7 linked regions of the Homo sapiens genome follow. The protein of the gene in region 2 interacts with the protein of the main gene of each other region in a pairwise test. Each region holds a gene or a part of one and is shown on either strand. Other genes may lie near its edges. The genes, in order: KRTAP22-1, MEIS2, PBX4, ARNT2, ZNHIT3, TRIM25 and DGCR6.

The links.
Region 1: the proteins of MEIS2 (region 2) and KRTAP22-1 interact in a two-hybrid assay, tested with the Homo sapiens proteins (one large-scale study listed by BioGRID).
Region 3: the proteins of MEIS2 (region 2) and PBX4 interact in binary tests that used the Homo sapiens proteins (3 or more experiments, as listed by UniProt).
Region 4: the proteins of MEIS2 (region 2) and ARNT2 interact in a two-hybrid assay, tested with the Homo sapiens proteins (one large-scale study listed by BioGRID and IntAct).
Region 5: the proteins of MEIS2 (region 2) and ZNHIT3 interact in a two-hybrid assay, tested with the Homo sapiens proteins (one large-scale study listed by BioGRID and IntAct).
Region 6: the proteins of MEIS2 (region 2) and TRIM25 interact in a two-hybrid assay, tested with the Homo sapiens proteins (one large-scale study listed by BioGRID and IntAct).
Region 7: the proteins of MEIS2 (region 2) and DGCR6 interact in a two-hybrid assay, tested with the Homo sapiens proteins (one large-scale study listed by BioGRID).

Annotation. Positions count from the first base shown.
Region 1 is NC_000021.9:30,599,656-30,601,882, forward strand, and holds KRTAP22-1 (keratin-associated protein 22-1), read left to right. Parts: upstream 1-1,431; 5' UTR 1,432-1,465; coding exon 1,466-1,612; 3' UTR 1,613-1,727; downstream 1,728-2,227. UniProt on the Homo sapiens protein: In the hair cortex, hair keratin intermediate filaments are embedded in an interfilamentous matrix, consisting of hair keratin-associated proteins (KRTAP), which are essential for the formation of a rigid and resistant hair shaft through their extensive disulfide bond cross-linking with abundant cysteine residues of hair keratins.
Region 2 is NC_000015.10:36,891,627-36,894,549, reverse strand, and holds part of MEIS2 (homeobox protein Meis2), read left to right. Parts: intron 1-2,090; coding exon 2,091-2,377; 3' UTR 2,378-2,923. UniProt on the Homo sapiens protein: Involved in transcriptional regulation. Binds to HOX or PBX proteins to form dimers, or to a DNA-bound dimer of PBX and HOX proteins and thought to have a role in stabilization of the homeoprotein-DNA complex.
Region 3 is NC_000019.10:19,570,188-19,573,687, forward strand, and holds part of PBX4 (pre-B-cell leukemia transcription factor 4), read right to left. Parts: intron 685-3,500; exon of another isoform or gene 647-684; coding exon 399-646; intron 231-398; exon of another isoform or gene 113-230; coding exon 1-112.
Region 4 is NC_000015.10:80,410,882-80,414,381, reverse strand, and holds part of ARNT2 (aryl hydrocarbon receptor nuclear translocator 2), read right to left. Parts: intron 1-3,500. UniProt on the Homo sapiens protein: Transcription factor that plays a role in the development of the hypothalamo-pituitary axis, postnatal brain growth, and visual and renal function. Specifically recognizes the xenobiotic response element (XRE).
Region 5 is NC_000017.11:36,489,681-36,493,001, forward strand, and holds part of ZNHIT3 (zinc finger HIT domain-containing protein 3), read left to right. Parts: intron 1-3,132; coding exon 3,133-3,219; intron 3,220-3,321.
Region 6 is NC_000017.11:56,900,550-56,904,049, reverse strand, and holds part of TRIM25 (E3 ubiquitin/ISG15 ligase TRIM25), read left to right. Parts: intron 1-2,471; coding exon 2,472-2,631; intron 2,632-3,500.
Region 7 is NC_000022.11:18,904,909-18,909,119, forward strand, and holds the start of DGCR6 (protein DGCR6), read left to right. Parts: upstream 1-1,411; 5' UTR 1,412-1,466; coding exon 1,467-1,576; intron 1,577-1,656; coding exon 1,657-1,817; intron 1,818-4,211. UniProt on the Homo sapiens protein: May play a role in neural crest cell migration into the third and fourth pharyngeal pouches.

The sequences.
Region 1 (2,227 bases), on a different chromosome or scaffold from region 2:
TCCATCATTCAACATCCCTAATATTAATATCTTTCATAACCATAATCCACTTATCACACCAAAGAAATTAACTGTGTACAGTATTCTTAACTAAACTGCAGACTTTATTTTACCATTTTTCTGTTATTATTAACTTATTTTATTTTAAGTTCTAGGACCATGGTTCATTGTAGCACTATTCACATATTTATTTTAATGTTCTTTTTTTCTGTTCTTGGATCCAATTCACATTGCATTTGGTTTTTATACTTCTTAGTCACCTCCAATTGCTCATGGTTCATTCGTCTTTTCTTGGCTTTTATGACCTTACAATTTTAGAGAGCCAGATATTTTGTGGAATATTCCCCAATTGAATCTGTCTAAGGTTTCCTCATATGTAGATTGAGGTTATACATTTGGGAAGAGATGTAACTCTTGTCTTGTGCCATCTCAGGGAGTCATGATGCCAATAAATCTTTGAGTAATTCTGGAATTGTTTTAAAATTCAGATTTTTAATAGAAGTCCTTTTCTTACTATATACCCAGAATCAACGAAGTCAAAAATCAAAGTCTTTGCCACGGTTTAGAATCATATATAAAATGATAGCTACATGTGAAGTATAAACCAAAGAGAATGATATTGCTCCACAAAAAGTGATGAAACACCTTATCACTCAACATTTTACAAGTGAATGCTGCCACCATGACTTCTCTTACACGCTTATCATCCTTCCTTATCACTTTGGAGCTACACTCTTATTCCCAAGTCTGCATATATGTATTTAGGCTGAAGGATATTATTGGGTGAAAGTAGGATTTTTAAAAAATGGAAGCCATCACGTCCATAACCCCAGGCTTTGGGAGGCCGAGGCGGGCGGATCTTGAGGTCAGGAGATCAAGACCATCCTGGCCAACATGGCGAAACCCCATCTCTACTAAAAATACAAAAATTAGCTGGGCGTGGTGGCACGCACCAGCTATTCATAAGGCTGAGGCAGAGAATCCAGGAGAATCACTTGAAACCAGGAGGTGGAGGTTGCAGTGAGATTGTGCCACTGCACTCCAGCCAGGCAACAGAGCTAGTCTCTGTCTCACAACAACAACAACAACAACAACAACAAGTGGAAGCCATGTGGGTTACTCTTGGTTGCTGGTAATGTAGTTTAAATTTGACATCTGAAATAAACGAGTCATCAAAATAGGAGATGGATCTCTTATTAAAGGTACATTATTTCATTATATTCAACATTCCTGAGAAACAGCAAAGTTGTCTTGGATGTATTGGTTACAAGGAATATTTTAGATGGTTTCAATGCTAATTAGTGTGGAATGTGAATCTAACAGTGCCTGTGATTTGTCCCACATACCATTCATGTGGCATTTAAGGCCCTTATTATAAGCTTAAAACTTTAAACTTAAAACTCTATAAACTTAAAACTCTAGAATCTGATCCTGCTATACAACTGAGCCTACCTTTCTTGAAACCATGAGCTTTGATAACAACTACCATGGTGGCCAGGGCTATGCCAAAGGAGGCCTGGGCTGCAGCTATGGCTGTGGTCTTAGCGGCTATGGCTATGCCTGCTACTGCCCATGGTGTTATGAAAGATCTTGGTTTTCTGGCTGCTTCTGAGAAATTAGAGATTGCTGATCTGTTTAGGCCATTCTCTTATGAGCTATGTTTTCTTCCCGTGTTTTTTTCTGTTCAAAGAGTGACAACTAAAATTTAGCCCACATTGCCAAGTCAGAATTTATTTGATCAATTAGCTGGAATTTCCAACAATTTAATCAAACGAAAAAAGAACCTTTGATGTTGTGTTACTAGTATATGATTAAGTACAAATAATGTTAAGCATTTTCATTTGGGAAAAAGTCTAAATTTATTTTTCTTCAAAGGTAATTTATTTTGCAAACCTACAGCATTTTCCTACCTATATTTATTTATCTAGAGTACCTATATTATTTGTGATTGTGTGTGTGTGTTCAGGAGCACATATGTAAGGTTGCTGACCCATTGGAAACTTACAGTTGATGATGTGGATGTGTTAGGTCTGACCAATAGTACTTTGATAAAATGTATTCTCATGGGCAGAGCCAAGTGGTACTATAATTTACTTTGATCTATCAAAGCCTCATCTTCAGTGTATCCAATGTTTGACTAAAATCATTGGCAAAAATAGTACCTCCCTTCTCATCACTTTATTCTGTTGCACATACATTACATTTCTTGATACTTAGTTGCATTTTT
Region 2 (2,923 bases):
CTGATGTGCACTTTTGAAAAGGCCAACTGACAAGCCTGCGTGTGTTTTAAGCAGGTGGGACTGCCTTTTAGCCTATTTACTGTGGCCCCAATGTGCACAAACACAGACATCAGGCAGATATTGGACATTTAAGAATAAAAATAATGTCTTGGGGGCACCAGTTGACTGAGAGAAATTAAGCAGGCTTCAATGAAGCGATAAAAAAAAAAAGGAAAAGTAGAACTGTCCTTTGAGTGACATAAATCTGTCAGAATACGATTGATGCCCAAATTATCTTATATGCAAAGATGAAATGCTGCAGTTCATTATGCCTAGTCTAGATATATGACAGCAGTGACACCATTGATTCTTCACTAGGGAGTCGGTGTGTTTTGATTATTTTTTACATGTGCCTACTGACTTCCGACATGAGACAGAAAGACAGGAAAGTCAGTCAATAAATTTAAAGGGAAAGACATTTAGGAGCAACTGAATATGAAGGAATGGATTTTTCACTGAGGCTGAATGGCTGCAGTTGGATTAAGAAACCCATTAGACTTTAAAGCTTCAAGTGTTTTTGACATCTGAAAAAAATTCAGAGTCTGCCAACAAGATATATCCTTTGCTGAAGACACCAGAGCATAAAAAAATTCATATAACATTGAAACTTCCTTGTTTAATGAGGCTGAATATAACAACACGTACCTTGATTAAATCATTCTCTATATGTAAATAGAGGCCAACATTTTATAGGGGAGCTCAGGGGGTCACCACGGCACACCATTGATGAAGCCAATTTCCTTCCTTCCTTCCTTTACTAATGCAGTCAAAAAATGTAGAAAGCAATGTTCCCTAAAACAGCTATAGAGAAAACATTTGCTCAGCTTGGATAGTTCTTAATATAGGCCATATAATTTCTAGCCTATTTAATTACATAACATATTTTATGCTTCATGACCAATTACATTAATAGCTTAATACAGAAGAATATTATCCTCTCTTGATTTGATTATGCAGCCACACAATATGGTATATTTGGTACTTAATTATCATCATCCATTGAGCAGGCTGCTGTGGTAGAATAAACAGAGAGCTGGGACTATGCAGGCTGTGTTATTGTCTTTAGATGGTTTTGCCACTTCTGTTAATAATGGACTGCGGATCTACTTAACAAAATGACTGCAGCATATAAGCCTTTAGATTACCAGCTTACAGTGTCAAAAACATCTGTTCAGCTTTTCAACTGTATGCACTGGAGGTTAAATAGAGGTGAATAAAGCTGTCCTTTTAGATCCGGGGATGTGCAACAGTAAATATAACCTTAATTCAATAAACAGGTAACTTGTAAGAGAAATCAGAATCCTTACAATTGCTGACTTCCCACCATTTAACTCATAACTTTGAATGTTGCATATCTCAATTGAGAATTTCTACATTTATTACATTTTATTCCTAATATCAAGGCATTATTTGGGGGGATTTTCAGAGATAAACTACCGGGCATGTCATATGACCTCACATTGACTTCTTACCTTTGACCTTTACAATCTCTTGGGTGTACTGCTATAGGAATGCCTCTAATTCAAAAAGGGGGCTTCATTTTAAATACACGTAAAAGCTCATTTCTTCAAAATGAATATGCTGTAATGTTTTGTGTAATAAATTTTTCATGAGGAAATATAGATATGATAAGATGTCAATTTTATTTTATTCTACTATCTACAATTTTTGTCCAGGTCTACAAATGCAACACAGAAAAATAAATGATCTATCAACAGTTAACTGATAAAACTCGACTCAAAATTTATATTCTTATTGCATTTATCAAAGAAATGTACTGAATACCATTTTGAAAAACAGTTCCACTTTATGACATTTAGTTGCATTAAATATTTAGTTCTGTTGTGTTGCATTATACTGCTGTGCGATGAAATTAAATGCAAACTACAATTTGAATGTCTGCAAACATTGGCAAGAATCTGCAGCTAAATTTAGGTATAAGATTTGCAGTGTCTGTTGTTTTTTTTTTTTTTTTCTTTTCATCTTTGATGGGTAAAGTATAAAAATGTTTAGGAATTTGACCCGCTTTCTTTTTCCCTCTCTATTTTCAGGTTTGCAGAGCATGCCAGGGGACTACGTTTCTCAGGGTGGTCCTATGGGAATGAGTATGGCACAGCCAAGTTACACTCCTCCCCAGATGACCCCACACCCTACTCAATTAAGACATGGACCCCCAATGCATTCATATTTGCCAAGCCATCCCCACCACCCAGCCATGATGATGCACGGAGGACCCCCTACCCACCCTGGAATGACTATGTCAGCACAGAGCCCCACAATGTTAAATTCTGTAGATCCCAATGTTGGCGGACAGGTTATGGACATTCATGCCCAATAGTATAAGGGAACTCAAGGGAAAAGGAAACACACGCAAAAACTATTTTAAGACTTTCTGAACTTTGACCAGATGTTGACACTTAATATGAAATTCCAGACAGCTGTGATTATTTTTTACTTTTGTCATTTTTCATCAAGCAACAGAGGACCAATGCAACAAGAACACAAATGTGAAATCATGGGCTGACTGAGACAATTCTGTCCATGTAAAGATCCTCTGGAAAAAGACTCCGAGAGTTATAACTACTGTAGTATAAATATAGGAACTAAGTTAAACTTGTACATTTCTGTTGATCACGCCGTTATGTTGCCTCAAATAGTTTTAGAAGAGAAAAAAAAATATATCCTTGTTTTCCACACTATGTGTGTTGTTCCCAAAAGAATGACTGTTTTGGTTCATCAGTGAATTCACCATCCAGGAGAGACTGTGGTATATATTTTAAACCTGTTGGGCCAATGAGAAAAGAACCACACTGGAGATCATGATGAACTTTTGGCTGAACCTCATCACTCGAACTCCAGCTTCAAGAATGTGTTTTCATGCCCG
Region 3 (3,500 bases), on a different chromosome or scaffold from region 2:
ACTTGCCGTGAATGGCGCCGACCATGCGCTCAATCTCCTTAGGGGAGACAGGCCTCATCCTGCTCTGCTCCTGGAGGAGGTTGGTGACGTGCGTGGTGAACTCACGACAGGCCTGGGGTGGGAGCACAGACACGCCGGCCTGTGACTAGGCAGCAGGGTGGCACAGGGCAGCAGGTTCCACAGCGGAGCAGCCGCCTGCCACCCCCTGTAGTTCACACACCGGCGGGTGACTGTTAAGTAAATGGAAAGGGCTTTCAGTAACAATGGACCACCTCTGCAGCGACCAACTGCATGGACTCCCTGTTCTGCGCCACGAAAGAAAGGTGGTTAGCGTTCCGTGTTTCGCTTTGACAAATGCGCATTCACATGACAGAAACTCTTCCATGCAGAAAGATCACCTGTTCATATTTCTCTAGCTCAGAGTGGTAAATCTGTCGGATCTGGGACAGCTTGGCCCTGTAGTCAGAGTGCTCAATGCTATTGTCATTTGGACAGCCACCTGGTGTTGCTGTGCCGGCCCTGGCCACCGCTCCTCCTCTTCCTCTCTTCTCGGGCCTGCACACGCCCTCAGCCAGCAGCATGTTATCCAGCCTCAGGAGCTGGGCGTCAGGGGGATCTTCGTCTTGAATGCCACGGATGCTTACCACTAGATAAGAGAGACCGGGACAAGTCACAATTCATTTTCTGGAGAGAAAACAAACCATGAGAAAATGTGAGCACTGGTGTTATGTCTGAAGATTTTTGCATAGAACCCTTCGGGAGAAAGGAATACTCCACTTTATCACCAAATTGGATGATGGACACTGAGCACCCCGCTAAGACATGGGTCCAAGTGCCATCCTTAGAGCGCAGTCTGGGGAGGAACGGGGAGACACAGGTCGCAGTTTGGCATAGCCTGTGAGGGCAAACCTTGGTCACAGCTGTGTGCACGCAGCAGGGCCAGGCAGGCGCCTGTTGCTGGGGTCACCTGAACCCCTGAACCGAGTCTCAAGAAGTGCTGGGGAAGAGGGGGCACCCAAGATGCTGCATACTGATAAAGGCAAGTGGCAGGCTGGCATTGGCAGCGTGGCTGGCCTGGGCCCAGGACTGTGCAGCTGTAGGCCTGTTGTGGCTGGTGGGTGGGGTGTGTGTGTGTTGGGGTGGGGGTGCTGTTATAAAACTGGATAGGAAAAGCCTGATAAAGAAAGTGCCAGAAAAGATGAAATAACCCACTGAAAGATTTTAAGCAGAGAAACAAGATAATGGGCCCTACAATTTGGAAATGCCGTCCCAGCTCTGCAGAGAGGGGACCTGGATAGGGGCAGGGCTGGACTGCAGGGGAAGCAGTCAAAGGGCAGCCACCATCAAGGTATACACAGCTGTGGGGTCTGCAGGTCAGCTACAGGGCAGTCAGAGAACCCCCAGGATTCGTGTCCTGGGACACGGGTGTCAGAGAAGGGAAGACTCCAGGGTCATTCCCAGATTCTGCCATGGGCAGCACAGCCAATGGCATCGCATTCTCCCAAGTAAAAAGCCTGGAGCTGCAGCTTGTGCAGGTGGGGCTGAGTGAAAAGGTGGCTTCACGGCCGGGCACAGTGGCTCACGCCTGTAATCCTAGCACTTTAGAAGGCTGAGGCGGGCGGATCACTTGAGGTCAGGAGTTCGAGATCAGCCTGGCCAACATGGTGAAACCCCGTCTCTACTAAAAATACAAAAATTAGCCAAGCGTGGTGGCGCCTGCCTGTAATCCCAGCTACTAGGGAGGCTGAGGCAGGAGAATCACTTGAACCTGGGAGGCAGAGGATGCAGTGAGCTGAGATCTTGCCACTGCACTCCAGCTGGGGGGATAGAGAGACCCCGTCTCAAAAAAAAAAAAAAAAAAAAGTGTTCTCTTAGAATCAGGCTTTTTTTTTTTTTTTTTTTTTTGAGATGGAATCTCATTCTGTCACCTAGGCTGGGGTGCAATGGCATGGTCTCCACTCACTGCAACCTCTGTCTCCCAGGTTCCAGTGATTCTCCTGCCTCAGCCTCCCGAGTAGCTGGGACTACACATGCGTGCCGCCATGCCTGGCTAATTTTTGTATTTTTAGTAGAGACAAGGTTTCACTATGTTGGCCAGGCTGGTCTCGAACTCCTGACCTCATGATCCGCCTGCCTTGGCCTCTTAAAGTGCTGGGATTACAGGCATGACCCACCGTACCGGGCCAGAATCAGGCTATCTTAATAAGGTCAGCTACTTACCGAATTAGTGCTCAGATGACAATTCCGTTTGATTATATCATATAGTCATTTACAAGTGTCCCTTTCTTATTCCCTACATAACAGATGAACCTTTTCTGTCAAAAACTCACTAGTCAAAACTGAAGGAACTCAAGCGATATCCTTGTAAGAATTTTCCTTAGAGATTTCCACTTCAGGCTGGGCGCAGTGGCTCACGCCTGTAATCCCAGCACTTTGGGAGGCCAAGGTGGGCGGATCACCTGAGGTCGGGAGTTCGAGACCAGCCCAGCCAACGTGGAGAAACGCCATCTCTACTAATTAGCCGGGCATGGTGTCGAGTGTCTGTAATTCCAGCTACTTGGGAGGCTGAGGCAGGAGAATTGCTTGAACCCGGGAGACGGAGGTTGCAGTGAGCCGAGATCACGCCATTGCACTCCAGGCTGGGTGACAAGGGCGAGACTCCGTCTCAAAAAAAAAAAAAAAAAAAAAGAGATTTCCACTTCAACACTTAGTGCTAGTTTATTAAGCACACATGCAACAAATTTTATAAACCAGGATTTTGAACAAGAGACAAAAAAAATTAGCAACCAGATCCAAGGACTGACCACAAACCTGGTGCTTAATACAGGATAGTGTTGGCCAGGCGCAGTGGCTCACGCCTGTAATCCCAGCACTTTGGGAGGCCAAGGTGGGTGGATCACCTGAGGTCAGGGGTTCGAGACCAGCCTGACTAACACAGAGAAACCCCATCTCTACTAAAAATACAAAATTAGCCGGGCATGATGGCACATGCCTGTAATCCTAGCTACTTGGGAGGCTGAGGCAGGAGAATCGCTTGAATCCGGGAGGTGGAGGTTGCGGTGAGCCGAGATCACGCCACTGTACTCCAGCCTGGGCAACAAGAGCGAAACTCCATCTCCAAAAAAAAGAAAAAAAAAAAATATACACACACACACACACACACACACACACACACACACACACATATAGGATAGTGTCCCACCTTCTCCAAAACTGTTTCTTACTCAATTAAAATTGGAAAAAGCAATATGAGAAAAGTGGGAAGATTTCAAGAAGAATCCACACACCCTGTTAAACTTTCAAGGTAGAATAGATGGCGGCACAAAGTTGCAGACATGCAGAGACTTAACCACAAGTCTCCAGTACCCAGGCAGCGAATGTCCATGGCACAAATTAGTCATGCAAATTAGACATAAATTTGTCTAATTTGATAATAAGAACATAAACTATAATAGAAACAGCCAAAATAGCTAATACATGAGATTGGTTAAGTAAATTAT
Region 4 (3,500 bases), about 44 Mb from region 2:
CCATAGACCAGAGTTTCTCAACCTTGGCACTATTGACATTTGAGGCTGGATAAGCTCTTTGCTGTGGGGGCTGCCCTGTGCACAGTAGGATGTTTAGCAGCATCCTTGGCCTCTACCCGTAGATGCCAGTAGCACCCCTACTCCCTGGAGGTGTGGCAACCAAGAATGTTTCCAGACATTGCAAATGCCCCCAGTTGAGAAGCACTGTGTGGATACACGTTTGGCCTCTGTGCCCAGGTTTCTCACATGTCCTGCCACCCAACTTAGAGGTCTATTGAAGATAAGAAAGACAATACTATTTTGTGTGGCTATTAATTTAAAAATTGGTGCACCAATTAACTTTGGCTTCCTGTTCCTCTAAGTCTGGAACTCAGCTCATCTACTGACCTCTATAAAGGGCAACTGTGTAACTTTCCTGGCCTCCCTTCAGTGATTTAATAATTTCAGTGGCTTTTTTAACTGCTGTTAGGGTAATTGGGTGGTCCAGGCCAAAACAGGCAGGAAGTTGCCTTACTCAACAGGCAGAGTATATGGAAGGCCACCCTCCTCTCCTTTGGCCCCACCTCCCTCGCTCAGCCACCAGTAAGGCCTTCAGCTAATTTGTCTCTTGGAAGGCCTGGCTCTACCCGAAGAGCTGGGTTTCCACTCAGGCCAACTCCTCTGGTGCTCCCACCCTGGACATTGCACCCCTGAATCTTCCCAGGCTGTCCTACCTCAGAGTCTTTCCTTTTGCCACCTAAGCCTGGATAGAGAGATGCCTAGTTCCACCTGCAGCTGCTCTCCACTTTTTTAGAGTTGTTGGAAGAAAAGTAGGGATGGCCAAATCAGAAACAAACACATTTATCCTCAGTTACTAACAACTCCTGAATGTGCATTTGAAACAGGAATAACCACCATGGCCTGCCTAATGGTATCACAGGCAGGCAGGCAGGACCAGAAATCACCTGGCCGCATGCTCTCTAAGCCCTGGGACCACCCTGTCAGCCAGGTGGTCTGGTTGGAAGTGTGTAGGTCAATCCTAGGAGGATGTGTGGACAATAGACGGTGAGCAAAGGTTTCTGGGTAAGTTAGTGGCACCAGCGTTTGAGAAAGGCCATATGGAAGAGGTGAATTGGTAAGGGAGGGGGTGGAGGGAGAACAATGGGGCCTCAGATGAGAACCCAGGTTGGCATGGAGAGCCCAGTCATGGGGCCCCTGCAGCGGCCCACTGAGGCCATCAGAGGCTCTCTGCCTGTTGAGTAAGGCAACTTCCTGCCTGTTTTGACCTGGACCAATTACCCTAACAGCAGTTAATTAAAAAGCCACTGAAATTATTAAATCACTGAAAGGAGGCCAGGAAAGGTACACAGTTGCCCTTTATAGACATCAGTAGATGATCTGAGTTCCAGACTTACAGGCAACAGGGCCTGGCCTGGGTTGCCGGAACCTGCCAAGGATAGGGGGCACAGCGTCTGGGTGTAAGACCTACTCATCCACCTACCTGCTGGGGACTCCAGATAAATCTCTGAGCCTCTCTCTGAGCCTCTGTTCTAACCTTTGTGGACAGCAGTATAAAAGTATATAAATCCATTTGACTGTTCAATTCTACTTCAAAGAATTGACAATAAGGAAAAAATCATGTATTCATATATTCATTCATATACGGGGATGTTCAATACAATGGTGTGTACAATTCTGGCAAACAGAAAAGCACACCAAATATTATATGCCCAGATATAAGAATGTGAGTTAATGAATTATGACACAGCCATAAACAGAATATATGCAGCTTCTCAAATCAGTATCCTTGATAGGATATACCATTAATGAAGGGAAAAAAGGGATGACAAAGCAATATGCTCGAAATAATTCTATTTTGTTATATATATATATATACACACACACACAATATTTAGAAAAAAGTCTGTAAGGATATACGCAAAAATGTTAGTTATGGGTGGCAGAATTATCTTAGTGTTTTTGTGCATTTTCCAAATTTTTTACAATCAACACAGATCTTTATTGTGGGGGAAAAGTGGTTGTGGTGAAGAAAGCAACCAACTCCTCAGCAGGGGCTAGGAGAAGAGCTCCAACCTCTGCTTTGTATGTTCTCACAATGAAACCAAAACAGTAAGAGATGTCCCATGTTTTCATACAATGTACAAAAGCAGGAAGTACCTATTTGTAAACATTTTGGCATTTTTGTAGATTTCCCTGAAAAAAATGGTCAAATTGTTATAGACTTGGCAGCCACAGAGTCTCTGCTTATCTGCAAAGAGCCTCAGCTTCCAACTCTAAAGCCTGCACTATTCAATCAGAGGGCAATGAATGCATCTTTTGACCTTGTTGCTGCCTTCCTGAATGCTGTTGGGGTGGCTGAATCTCAAAGCCAGCCTGGAGTCTGTCTTATCAGTAACTGCTGGTAATTAAGCAAGCCATGTCAATAGTTTCACACACAACACAGAAGGCAGTAAATGGGAGGATCCCACTTCCCTTCTGAGAAGACCCTGTGGGACTGTAACACGGAACCTACCACTACCACCAGCCAGTCTCCAAGCTATCACCTACCCTTCTTCTGGGAAGAATGATGAGCTTTGTGTGTCCAAGGTATCAGGTAGGTGTAGGACCTCCTCACCCACCCACCTGCTGAGGACTCGAGGTAAGTCTCTGAGCCTCTCTAAGCCTCTGGTGTAACCTTTGTGGACAGCAGTATAAAATAAAAATATATAAATACATTCGACTGTTCAATTCTGACCTAATCTTCTTCTGGGAAGAATGATGAGCTTTGTGTGTCCAAGGCTCCTTATTAGAAAGTCTAGAGGAACTAGTTTGCATAGGGATTATCTTGGTAGGATTTTCAGATCAAAATCAGTTTCCACAAATAAAAGTCAGAATCTCAATTAGACAGCTCTGGACTATTTTGTTACAGAGACCCACAAATATAGGATATATGCTTTCTTTCCTTCAAGGGAGTCATTGAAAGGCAGCCACATACAAAATAAAAGACAGTTCCCTGGCATCCCTCCATTTATTCATTAACAAAACCCTACTGGGTATCTATTGTATGGGAAGCAATATGGTAGGTGCCAGGGCTGCCATACTGTTGGATACATTCCCTGCCCTCACAGGGCTTCCAGTCAGGTATCAATCAAATAACTGCACAATTTACATGAGGCGAAGTGCTCCAGAAGCAAAGTACAGCTTTATGGGGCCCTGGAAGAATGCATGATAGGTACATTTTACCTGGATAAAGGGATCAGGATAGATTTCCCTAATGGAGTAAGAATTCAAGCTGAGACCAGAAGAAAAGTAGGAATTGGACAGGAAAATGGTTAGGAGTGAGGAGGGGGTAAGGGTAGGGAAGGAGGGACAGTGAGCAATTAATCATTCCAAGAAGAGGGACACAACATAAACAAGAGCCCTCAATTGGAAAGGAGCTTGGCTAAAACTGAGAAATAACTTTTCTTCATTGAACAAAGAGTTTCGTGTGGTGAGCTAGTCCAACAGCCTGACCTGCCCCA
Region 5 (3,321 bases), on a different chromosome or scaffold from region 2:
TACAGTGGCGCAGTCTCTGCTTACTGCAACCTCCGCTTCCAGGGTTCAGGTGATTCTCCTGCCTCAGCCTCCAAAGTAGCTGGGATTACAGGTGCCTGCTGGCTGATTTTTGTATTTTTAGTAGAGACAAGGTTTCACCATGTTGGCCAGGCTGGTCTTGAGCTCTTGACCTCAGGTGATCCACCTGCCTCGGCCTCCCAAAGGGCTGGGATTACAGGGGTGAGCCACCATGCCCGGCCCATTTGTCCACTTAATTTTTTTTTTTTTTTTTTTTTGGCTGTTGAGCTCCTTGTGTATTCTAGATATTAATCCTTTGTCAAGTGAATATTTTGCAAATATTTTCTCCCATCCTGTGGGTTGTCTCTTCATTCTATTGTTTCCTTTGTTGTACAGAAGCTTTTTTGTGTAATAGAATTCCATTTGCCTATTTTTGCTTTTCTTGCCTGTGTTTTTGAGATTTTATTCATAAAATCTTTGCCTAGACCAATGTCCTGAAGCATTTCCCCTGTGTTTTCTTGTAGTAGTTTCAGGTCTTACATTTAGGTCTTTAATCCATTTTGATATTTATATATGGTGACAGATAAGGATCTAGTTTCATTCTTCTGCATATGGTTATTCTTACAGTTATCCTATTTTTCCAGTACCATTTATTGAAGAGTGCTTTTTTCCCCAGTATATGCTCTTGGTGCCTTTGTGAAAAGTCAGTTGGCTGTAAATGTGTGAATTTATATCTGGGTTCTCTATTCTGTTCCATTGATCTATGTGTCTATTTTTATGCTAGTACCATGCTGTTTAGATATTATAGCTTTGTAGTATATTTCGAGGCCAAGTAGTGGTGATGCCTCCAGCTTTGTTCTGTTTGCTCAGGATTGCTTTGGCTATTGGGGGTCTTTTGTGGTTCCATATTAATTTTAGAATTTTTTTTTGACATTTCTGTGAACAGGATCATTGGTATTTTGATAGGGATTGCATTGACTCTAGATTACTTTGGGTAGTATGGTCATTTTAATATTTATTTTTCTTATTGGTGGATATTTACATTAATTTTGCCTTTGTTGCTGCTATAGGCAGTGTTAAAGTGGTATTTAATAAATAATTTTTATCAGAAATTTCTAATAGCCACATCTGTTGTACACTTTTCATTTGTCTTTTTTATTTTTTTGCAACAAAGTCTTGCTCTGTCACCCAGGCTGGAGTGCAGTGGTGCTCACTATAGCCTTGACTTCCTGGGCTCAGGCAGTCCTCCTACCTCAGCCTCCCAAGTAGTTGGGACTGCAGGCGTGTGCCACCATGCCTGGCTTATTTATTTTTAATTTTAATTTTTGTGGAGATGAAGTCTCACTGTATTGCCTGGGCTGGTCTTGAATTCCTGGGCTCAAGTGATCCTTCCACCTTGGCCTCCCAAAGCGTTGGGATTACAGACGTGAGCTACCCATGCTCAGCCTGTCATCTTTCTTGATTCCCATGAATATCTGCTGTGTTTGGCTTTTTCTTTCTTGATATTCTTTGGAGGCTGGGAAGATACCGCTCTGTGGTATTCTCTCCTCCCTTTCTCCCTTCGAAGTCCTAACCAGGCCTGACCCTGTTACAGCTTCTGAGGTCAGATGAGATAGGGTGCATTCAGGGTGGCTTAGCTGTAGACTCTCGTTTTCTTTTTTTTCCTTTTTTCGAGACAGGGTCTTGCTCTTTTGCCCAGGATGGAGTGCAGTGGTGTGATCACAGCTCATTGCACCCTTGGCCTCCTGGGCCCAAGTGATCCTCCCACCTTAGCCTCCTGAGTAACGGAGACAAACTTTATCTATTTTTCGTAGAGACAGGGTCTCACTGTATTGTCTAGGCTGGTCTTGGACTCCTGGGCTTAAGCAGTCCTCCTGCCTCAACCTCCCAAATTGCTGGGATTACAGGCAGGAGCCACTGTGCCCAGCTTCTCCTTCCTTTTGCTAGATCTCTCTCTTGAAATGTGGTCCTTGACTTTTATTCCTAGGTAGGTGATCTCTCTTTCACTTTAAACTTTTTTTTTTCTTGCTGACATCCAACTGTTTAGCTCCAGCCTCTTTTTGAGCACCTTAGACACAAATGTATTTTGGGGTCAGGTACAACCCAGAAAATTCACCTCTCCTTCAGTCCCTCCTGCTGTGTTCCTTACACATATAGCATAGCCGTAAAGTTAGACCCGGATTCCAAATCTGCCTCTGCTACTTACTAGCTGTGGACCCCAATGGACAAGTTTATTACAAGAAAATTTAATCCTTTCATCTGTAAGTGGAATTAACAGTCTCCATGTCATGGGGGCTTCGTAAAGGTTCATTGAGCCACTATGTATCTCACTGTGTACCTGGCACAGTGCTCGGCACTTAGTCACTGGCAGCTGTTGTAACTGCCACCTACATGACTAGAACCTTTCCGTAGCATATTGTCAAATCTACATTTTAAGTCTCTACAATCTGGTCCTGCCTTTATGTCCTCAGAACCCTTTCCTGTGACTTCATGCTCTGTTGATACTGTCACCCAGGCTGGAGTGCAGTGGCACAATCACAGCTCACTGCAGCCTTGACACACTGGGCTTAAGGGATCCTCCTGCCTCAGCCTCCCAAGTAGCTGAGACCACATGTGTGTACCACCATGCCTGGATGATTTTTTTTATTTTCTGTAGAGACATAGTCTTGCTAGGTTGCCCAGGCTGGTCTCAAACTCCTGGGCTCAAGTGATCCTCCCACCTTGGCCTCCGAATGTTAGGATTACAGGCGTGAGCCAGCACAGCTGGCCTTCTGTTGACTCTGTAAGTTCTTTGGTGGTTTTGCCCCTAGTTTTATCCCATCTGGTATCTGGTTTACAGCAGCTATTTCAAACACCTCAGTTAATTGTGGTGAGAATTTTGTAAGATTCGGCAGGGTAGGGAGGATGGGGACAGGTTCTTGGGGTGCATGAATGAGTCCTGCTTTCTCAGCCTGCTGGCGGTTTTCCTTAATCTCTCTCTTGCTTTGATCTCTCACTTCTTCCACATTCCTGGGCACCCACCCACATCCCTTACCCCAGACACTTGCTTCCTACCTAGATGCTACCTTGGTAGGGAGGTGCAGCCTTGTCGCTGAAATGGAGGTAATGTGGGCCTGGGATTTGTGTCTTTTTCAGAACAGTGCAACCCTGAAACTCGTCCTGTTGAGAAAAAAATAAGATCAGCTCTTCCTACCAAAACCGTAAAGCCTGTGGAAAACAAAGGTGGGTTGGTTGACTTCAAACAAATCTACAAGGGACTTCACATAGAATAAGTCGAAGGAAAAGGGGAGAGTGGGGCTGGTCAGGGAATCCAGAACAATAGCT
Region 6 (3,500 bases), on a different chromosome or scaffold from region 2:
GTTTCTCTGGCTCAGGAATCTGGACATGGCTTTATGGGTGGCCTGCATAGGGTCTCACCAGGCTACAGTCTGCGAGGGATGGCCAGGCTGTTTCCTTTGGAGCTCAGGGTTGTCTTCCAGGCTCATGTGGTTGTTGGCAGAATTTAGTTCCTTATGGTTGTAGGACTGAGGCCCCCCGCAATTTCCTGCTGGCTGTCTCTCAGATTGATAGCTGACTTCTTCAAGGCCAGCATGAGAATTTCTCCTCTAGAAAGATGCAATCCCTCTTTTAAGGTCTTTTACCTGATTAAGTCAGGCCCACCCCAGATAATTGCCCTTTGATGAACTCAAAATCAATTGATTTGAGATGCTAATTACACCAGCAATATTCCACCCCCTTTGCCACATGACATAACCTAATCACAGGAGTGATATCCTATTTCATTCACCGTCCTGCCGATACTGAAGGGGAGGGCATACTATAGGGTATGTACATCAGTCGGGGTCGGGGGCTTGAGGGCCATCTTAGAACGTTGCCTGCCACTCACACTCCACCTCTTCCTCCCATCCTTCCTCCAGCAGCTCCTGGAAGTGTGTGTTAGTAGTCCCTTTTGCATTGCTATAAAGGAGTACCTAAGACTGAGTTATTTATTTATTTTATGTATTTATTTTGAGATGGAGTTTCACTCTTGTTGCTCAGGCTGGAGTGTAGTGGTGTGATCTTGCTCACTGAAACCTCTGCCCCCAGGCTCAAGTGATCCTCCTGCCTCAGCCTCCTGAGTAGCTGGGATTACAGGCGCACGCCACCATGCCCAGCTAATTTTGTATTTTTAGTAGAGACGAGATTTCACCATGTTGGCCAGGCTGGTCTCGAACTCCTGACCTCAGGTGATCCACCCACCTCGGCCTCCCAAAGTGCTGAGATTACAGGTGTGAGCCACTGCGCCCAACCAGACTGAGTAATTTATAAAGAAAAGAGGTTTATTTGGCTCACAGTTCTACAGGTTGTACAAGCATGGCACCAGCATCTGTTTGGCTTTTAGTTAGGCCTTTGGTGAGGAAGGAAGCTTTTACTCATGGCAGAAGGTGAAGCTGGGAGCAGGCATGTCACAGGGTTAGAGAGGGAACAAGAGACAGAGGAGGAAGTGCCAGCCTCCGTTAAACAACCAGTTTGTGCAAGAACTCACCTGTTACCATGGGGAGGGCACCAAGCGGTGCATGGGGAATCCACCCCCACGACACGAACACCTCCCACCCTGCCCCACCTCCAACACTGGGAATCACATTCCAACATGAGATTTGGAGGGGACAAACATCCAGACTGTATCAAAGTATCTGTCTAAAGCATGGGCCCCCTGCTGTTTCTGGCCTCATGTCCCTTAACATGGCCTGCAGGGTCCTAGGTGACTGGGCCCCGCCTGTGCCAGCAGTCTCATCTCATATCATCCATCCCTGGCTCATGCCCTATGCACTCACTGTTCCCCAGACACAGTGGGTGTGGGTGGGATGCCATGCTGGGCATTCTTGCCTAGTGAGTCGTATCCTTCCAGGGCCTTGGATCCCATTGCCATGCCGTATCGGTGTTCCCAAGCATGCCACACTGTTTCTACAGTAACATTGGGTGATGTTGTTTCAGATGTGCATTTTTTCATGGCTGTTTTGACTGTAAGCCCATCTCTTATTACCCCCATTCATCCTCCTGCCAATCTGACCAGCACATAGCAGAGTGCTTGGCATATAGTGGTGTGCCCCATTGATTGAGTGACCTGCAGCTATACCTGAAAGACCCAGATTCCTTGTTCAGATCAGGGGGTGGGGAGACAGTGCAGGAGTGAATGGGAACCTTGTCTCTGTGCACTGAGGCCTGATGCGTGCCTAGTCTGGATGGCGTTAAGTTTCATCCCAAGTGTTCATTCCTGTCTGTTGGAGCAGCTGCCCCGAGCTCTCGAAGGATCTGAGTGCACATCTAGGCTTCTTGATACTGTACAACCCTATTTTTCTCAAAGTTTGGGACTTCCAGGAAGACCCTCCCTTCCCATAAGATATTCCCTGGCTGCAATCCACATCCCTTGAGATGTCCCTGTCTGTTACCAGAATGTGTGATTAGAGCTGTTCCCCTAGGATTGGGGTGGTCCTGAGTTTCCTGTGCTTTTCCACCTTTAGCTGGAAAAGTGGAAAGAACATTGTCCTGGGGGATCGGAAGATCTCAGTCCCAGCTGTGTCTGTGCCCCTAGCTGGTGGAGTTCCTGCCATGTCTAGACCTCAGTTTCCCCATCTGTAAGATGAGTGACCTCTGGGGTCCCCTCCAGCTCCAGATTACTGTGTCTTCAAGTGTCATTTAAACTCCTGGTGACCTCTGGCCTGTAATTTGAGAAGGCCAATTGGACTTAGCACTCTTGGGCATAGGGGAGAGCCTCCTGGGGTTGGTGAGGACTGAGCCCAGGTCCCCGTTTCACCAGAGCTGCCTGCACTAACCCCCTGGCATGTTCCAGAAAGCATCAAAACTGCGAGGAATCTCAACAAAGCCAGTCTACATCCCCGAGGTGGAACTGAACCACAAGCTGATAAAAGGCATCCACCAGAGCACCATAGACCTCAAAAACGAGCTGAAGCAGTGCATCGGGCGGCTCCAGGAGCCCACCCCCAGTTCAGGTGACCTTAGCAGCCCCCTATGCTGCCCCCTGTGGAACCCTGCAACCCGATGGGTCCCCTAAATGTTTTGGGATGGGAGATTGGGGCGTGATCCCGAGCACTGGGGCCTGAGTTTCAGGGCTCCTGAAACATCCGCCCTCTGTCTGGAGGCTGGTGGGGAGTCTGCTTCATCCTGACATTTTAGGATCTTTCCTAAAGCATTTTTGGGGACTTGATGTTAATGCTTGGACTTTCTGGACAGATAGGCTCTTTTGGCCTGTGATCTTGAGGCCAACTTGGATGGGTTTTGAATAAGCTAGGGCTTGTTATTGTGTTTGGTGGGGGAATGGCCCGTTTGGGGGAGAAATCTAGAATTCCTCTTTGACACCCCCTTTTCATCACCCCATATCCAATCCATTGCCAAATTTCACTTCTTTCAATCTCCTGACTCAGTCTGCTGATCCTAGCACTGCTTGCCTGTTCTCCATTGCCATCACCTGTCGCCCCATGACTGTAGCAGCTTCCTAAACCCTCTGCATCTGCCGCTGCAGCCAGAGAGGGATTTTCATGATGCAGAGCTCATGTCCTGGGACCTATTCTGCTTTGCCCTCTCACTAGGCTTCCTATTACTCCCTGATGCAGACCAAACCCTTGACCCTGGTCTAGATGCCAGGTCAAGCCCTGTTGGTCTCTCTCCAGCCCCAAGGCGCCCCCCACTCTCCTCTGGTGCATCTCTCTGCATTCAGTTCCTCAAATATGCAAAACTTCCTGCTACAGGGCCTTTGTGTTTGCTCTTCCCCACTCTCCAGAAGGCTTGAACTCCACCGTCTTCACTAATTAACTCCTCTCACCCTTCAAAGATCAGCAAAACATTACATTTATAGCCAGCC
Region 7 (4,211 bases), on a different chromosome or scaffold from region 2:
TCCACTGGACAGGGGGCCCTTCCCTGCCTGGCAGCCGAGGCAGAGAGGGAGAGGAGACAGAGAGAAAGATAGCTTATGCCATTATTTCTGCATATCAGAGACTTTTAGTACTTTCACTAATTGACTACTGCTAGCTAGAAGGCAGAGCCAGGTGTACAGGATGACTAGGCATAATAAAGGCAGACTAGGAGCGGGACCACTGAAGCACAGCATCACAGGGAGATGGTTAGGCCTCCGGATAACTGCAGGCAAGCCTGACTCATGTCAGGCCCTCCACAAGAGGTGGAGGAGCGGAGTCTTCTCTAAACTCCCCCGGGGAAAAGGAGCCTCCCTTTCCCGGTCTGCTAAGTAGCAGGTGTTGTTCCTTGACACTTTTCACTACCGCTAGACCACGGCCCACCTGGCAACGGGCATCTTCCCAGACGCTGGCGTCACCGCTAGACCAAGGAGCCCTTCTGGTGGCCCTGTCTGGGCATAACAGAAGGCTCGCACTCTTGTCTTCTGGTCACCCCTCACTGTGTCCCCTTAGCTCCTATCTCTGTATGGCCTGGTTTTTCCTAGGTTATGATTATAGAGTGAGGATTATTATAATACTGGAATAAAGAGTAATTGCTACCAACTAATGATTATTGATATTCATATATAATCATATCTAAGATCTATATCTGGTATAACTATTCTTGTTTTATATTTTATTATACTGGAACAGCTCGTGTCCTCGGTCTCTTGCCTCAGCGCCTGGGTGGCTTGCCGCCCACACCAGCCACCAGAAGCTCCCCAGCCCCGGCCCAGCAGCTGGTCTGGGGAGCGGGGAGAGGGCAGTCTGGGCTCGCGGTTCCGGCTGGGGGCTGGGCACCCCGGGGCGACCACGGCAGGCCCAGATGGGGACTCCGGTTCCAACTCTCCTGGCCCAGAGGCTCTAGGGTGGTCTTGTCTGTCTCACTCCGGGGGCAGAGAGGACGCAGACAGACCCCAACACCACTGCTCGGCCGCGATGGTGCCTTAGACCCAGGTCCTGTGGGCTCTGGCCCGAGACCCCTCCCTCTGGGAAGGCCGGTGACCGGGACAGTCCACCTCGCAGGCGCGCCGGCGCGGAGCCCGGACCTCAGCCCGCAATGACTCAGCAAGGGCCGGTGGGATTCTACATGGTCCTGCGATATCCAGGCGACGGAGTCTCGCCTCTAAAGTGGCCCGGGGAGCAGGAAGGTATGAGCCTCAGCTGAGCGAAACCCTCCTTGCAGCCACCACGGAGGGACGGGGCGCGTCTCCTTCTGAATGACGCAAGGGGCGGGGCGCGTGGTGGGGCGGGGAAGGCGCGAGGCGCGCCGCGATCGGGGACTGTCCTAAGACGGGCGGGGCGCGCTGCGCTAGGGACTGTCATAAAAGGGGCGGGACGCGCCGCGGTCGGGATGACGTGAGCTGGGGGCGCTCGTCGCTGCAGCCGGCGGCTAGCGGGCGTCCGCGCCATGGAGCGCTACGCGGGCGCCTTGGAGGAGGTGGCGGACGGTGCCCGGCAGCAGGAGCGACACTACCAGCTGCTGTCGGCGTTACAGAGCCTGGTGAAGGAGTTGCCCAGGTACGCGGGCGGGGCGGGCGGCGGCCTGCCGAGGCCGCATCGTGTCCCGCCGGGGCTCACCGCGCTCCTCTACCCCGCAGCTCATTCCAGCAGCGCTTGTCCTACACCACGCTGAGCGACCTGGCCCTGGCGCTTCTCGACGGCACCGTGTTCGAAATCGTGCAGGGGCTACTGGAGATCCAGCACCTCACCGAAAAGAGCCTGTACAACCAGCGCCTGCGCCTACAGAACGAGCATCGAGGTGCGCGGGGGCAGCGGGAGGAGGTGCCGCCTCCTCGGGGTCGGCGCCTCCCGGCAGCTCTTGGTATCTGTGCAGCTCGGCTCCTTCCTTGGGAGTGTTCGGAAGAGGTCCCTAAGATTAACAAAATCAAGGGCGCAGAGACTGAGACAGCGCCTTTTTGGTGACCAATGTGTCCAACGAGTTTTGTTTTCAGTTGCGCAGCACCCACCTTCTTAGCAGAAACTCCCTGTTCGGGCTTCCCTGTGCCCCACCCCCTTCCAGGCCTGATGGCCCTAGGCCTCCGTGCTTGGTTGGCCGGCAGGCTGACTCTGGTGGTAGATCTGACTGCGTTGCCCTCCGGTAATTGGAGTTCTGTTGACAGGTGAGCAGCGCCCTTGGGTAGTTGGAGGTCTGTTGACAGCTGTGCGCGCCCTTCAGGGTCAGTTCCCTCTCAGGCCTGCAGGGCCTCATTCTAGTTGCACATCAAATTCCTAAGCACTGTCTCCTGTGGCGCCCTCCCAAACCAGAAGAGCTTCCCACTTGAGCCGCATGCTTCCTGGGCTTCGGAGCCCTTTCCTGCAAATTATATAGGGCAGGTCCCCCTGCACCATCAGATTTCCACCTTTGCTGTTTTATTTTTCCCAAACTTCTTATTTTAAAAGTTCAAACATTTGGAAAAACTGAAAAGACAGTGTAGTGCATACGCTTGTGCTCTCCACCGAAAGTTCAGTAGTTAACATTTTGCTCTAGTTCTTGACATCCCAAAATACATACATGTGACAGCATAGAATTCACCAAGAGTCTTCAGCATTCCTGGAGACCAGGATTTTCAACCCAGCCATGCTGACATTTGTGGCTGGGTAAGTCTTTATGGTGAGATGCTGTCTTGCGCATTGCAGGATGGCAGGGGTACCCTCCCTAGTCGTGAAAACCAAGAATGCCTCCAGACAACCTGGGTGGTGGGGTCAACCTTGGCCTTGGATTGGGAGCAAGTGCTCTAGAACAAGAGCGGTCTCCTACACAGCTGCAGAGGGTAGCCCCCTGAGAAATTAACTGTTCCAGGTGTCTCCTGACTTTCAGTGCATGGCCACATCATGGTACCTAACTTGTGGCAAATTGTTGCTTTATAAGTAAGGATCCAGTCCAAGTTCATGTACTACAATTGGTTACTTTGGTCTCTTTGCTTCTGGAACAGTCCCCAACATTTATTGTGGCATTGACTTTTTATAGAGTCTAATTCTATAATTAGAATGCCCTGCTCTGGATCTATCAGAGGAAATGCTTCCTCGTGCATTTAACCTGCTTCTCCACTCTCTGGGTTTACTGTACACTGGACTCCTGGTAGGAGCCTGATTAGAGGCAGGTTTAATGTGGCAAAAATTCCTCCTAGCGGGGCAAGGCCCCCTTCCCCAGAAGGCAGGCAGTGTCCATCTGCTCCAGGATTGGTGTGTTTCTATCAAGAATGGATGTTGGATTTTGGCAGTTTCCTTTTTGGCAGCTCTTGAGATGATCACGTGGTGAATCATTTTCTATTACTACAGTGAATTACAGTCACTTGAATTCCATCCTACTGGGTCGTGCTGTAGTATCCTTTTTATGTATGCTGGATTTGATTTGCTAAAATCTTGTTAAGAATTTTTTTGTCTATGTTCATGATAAACTGTGGTCTATAGTTTTCATGTAATACCTGGTTTGGGTATCAGGGTTTTTGCCAGCCTTATAGGATGAGTTTCGAAGTGTTCTCTCCTCTTCAGTTTTCCAGAAGAGTTTGTGTAGAATTGGCATTACTTCTTCCCCTAAATGTCTGGGTGACTGTCTTTTTAAAAATTTTATTGAGCTGTAAGATGCATGCAGTTTACTAATCCCAAGTGCATGGCTCATTATTCCTTAATGCTCAGACTGTGCCATGTGTGGCCAGTTGGGGGCGCTCCAGGCACCTTTAGATGCCGCCCCATCATTCTGTGAGCACTTTCTTGCTTTCTGGTTCAGGTATGTGTTCAGGCTCATCTTTTCTTGTTTTCTCCGTGTCTCAGTCCTGGAATCGGCCATTTTTCCACAGAGTTGTAGTTCTTTCTAGCAGGATGGGGAGTTTCAGTAACTGCCTGGGCCCAATGCTGTTTGTGCTTCAGAAGGTTTGGGCCAGGTCCTGGTTCCACCAGCAGCAGGCATGCCTGCGTTGACTTTCTGCTTCTCCTGCTGATTTGGCAGGGGTGACTGGCTGCTCCTGCCTCCTTTGTGTTCCCGGTCGTGTCTAAGGCCAGGCCCCTTCTGCCCAGGCAGCCGGCGTGGCTCTCTTCTTGCCTTTTGGTTGCATATCTAGTGGAATCTCGTAGTGGACCTGGCACTTGTAGCAATGTTTGATCAGTAGAGTGAAGATGATGACATTTCCCTGCTTCCCTGTGTTATGGAGCTGTC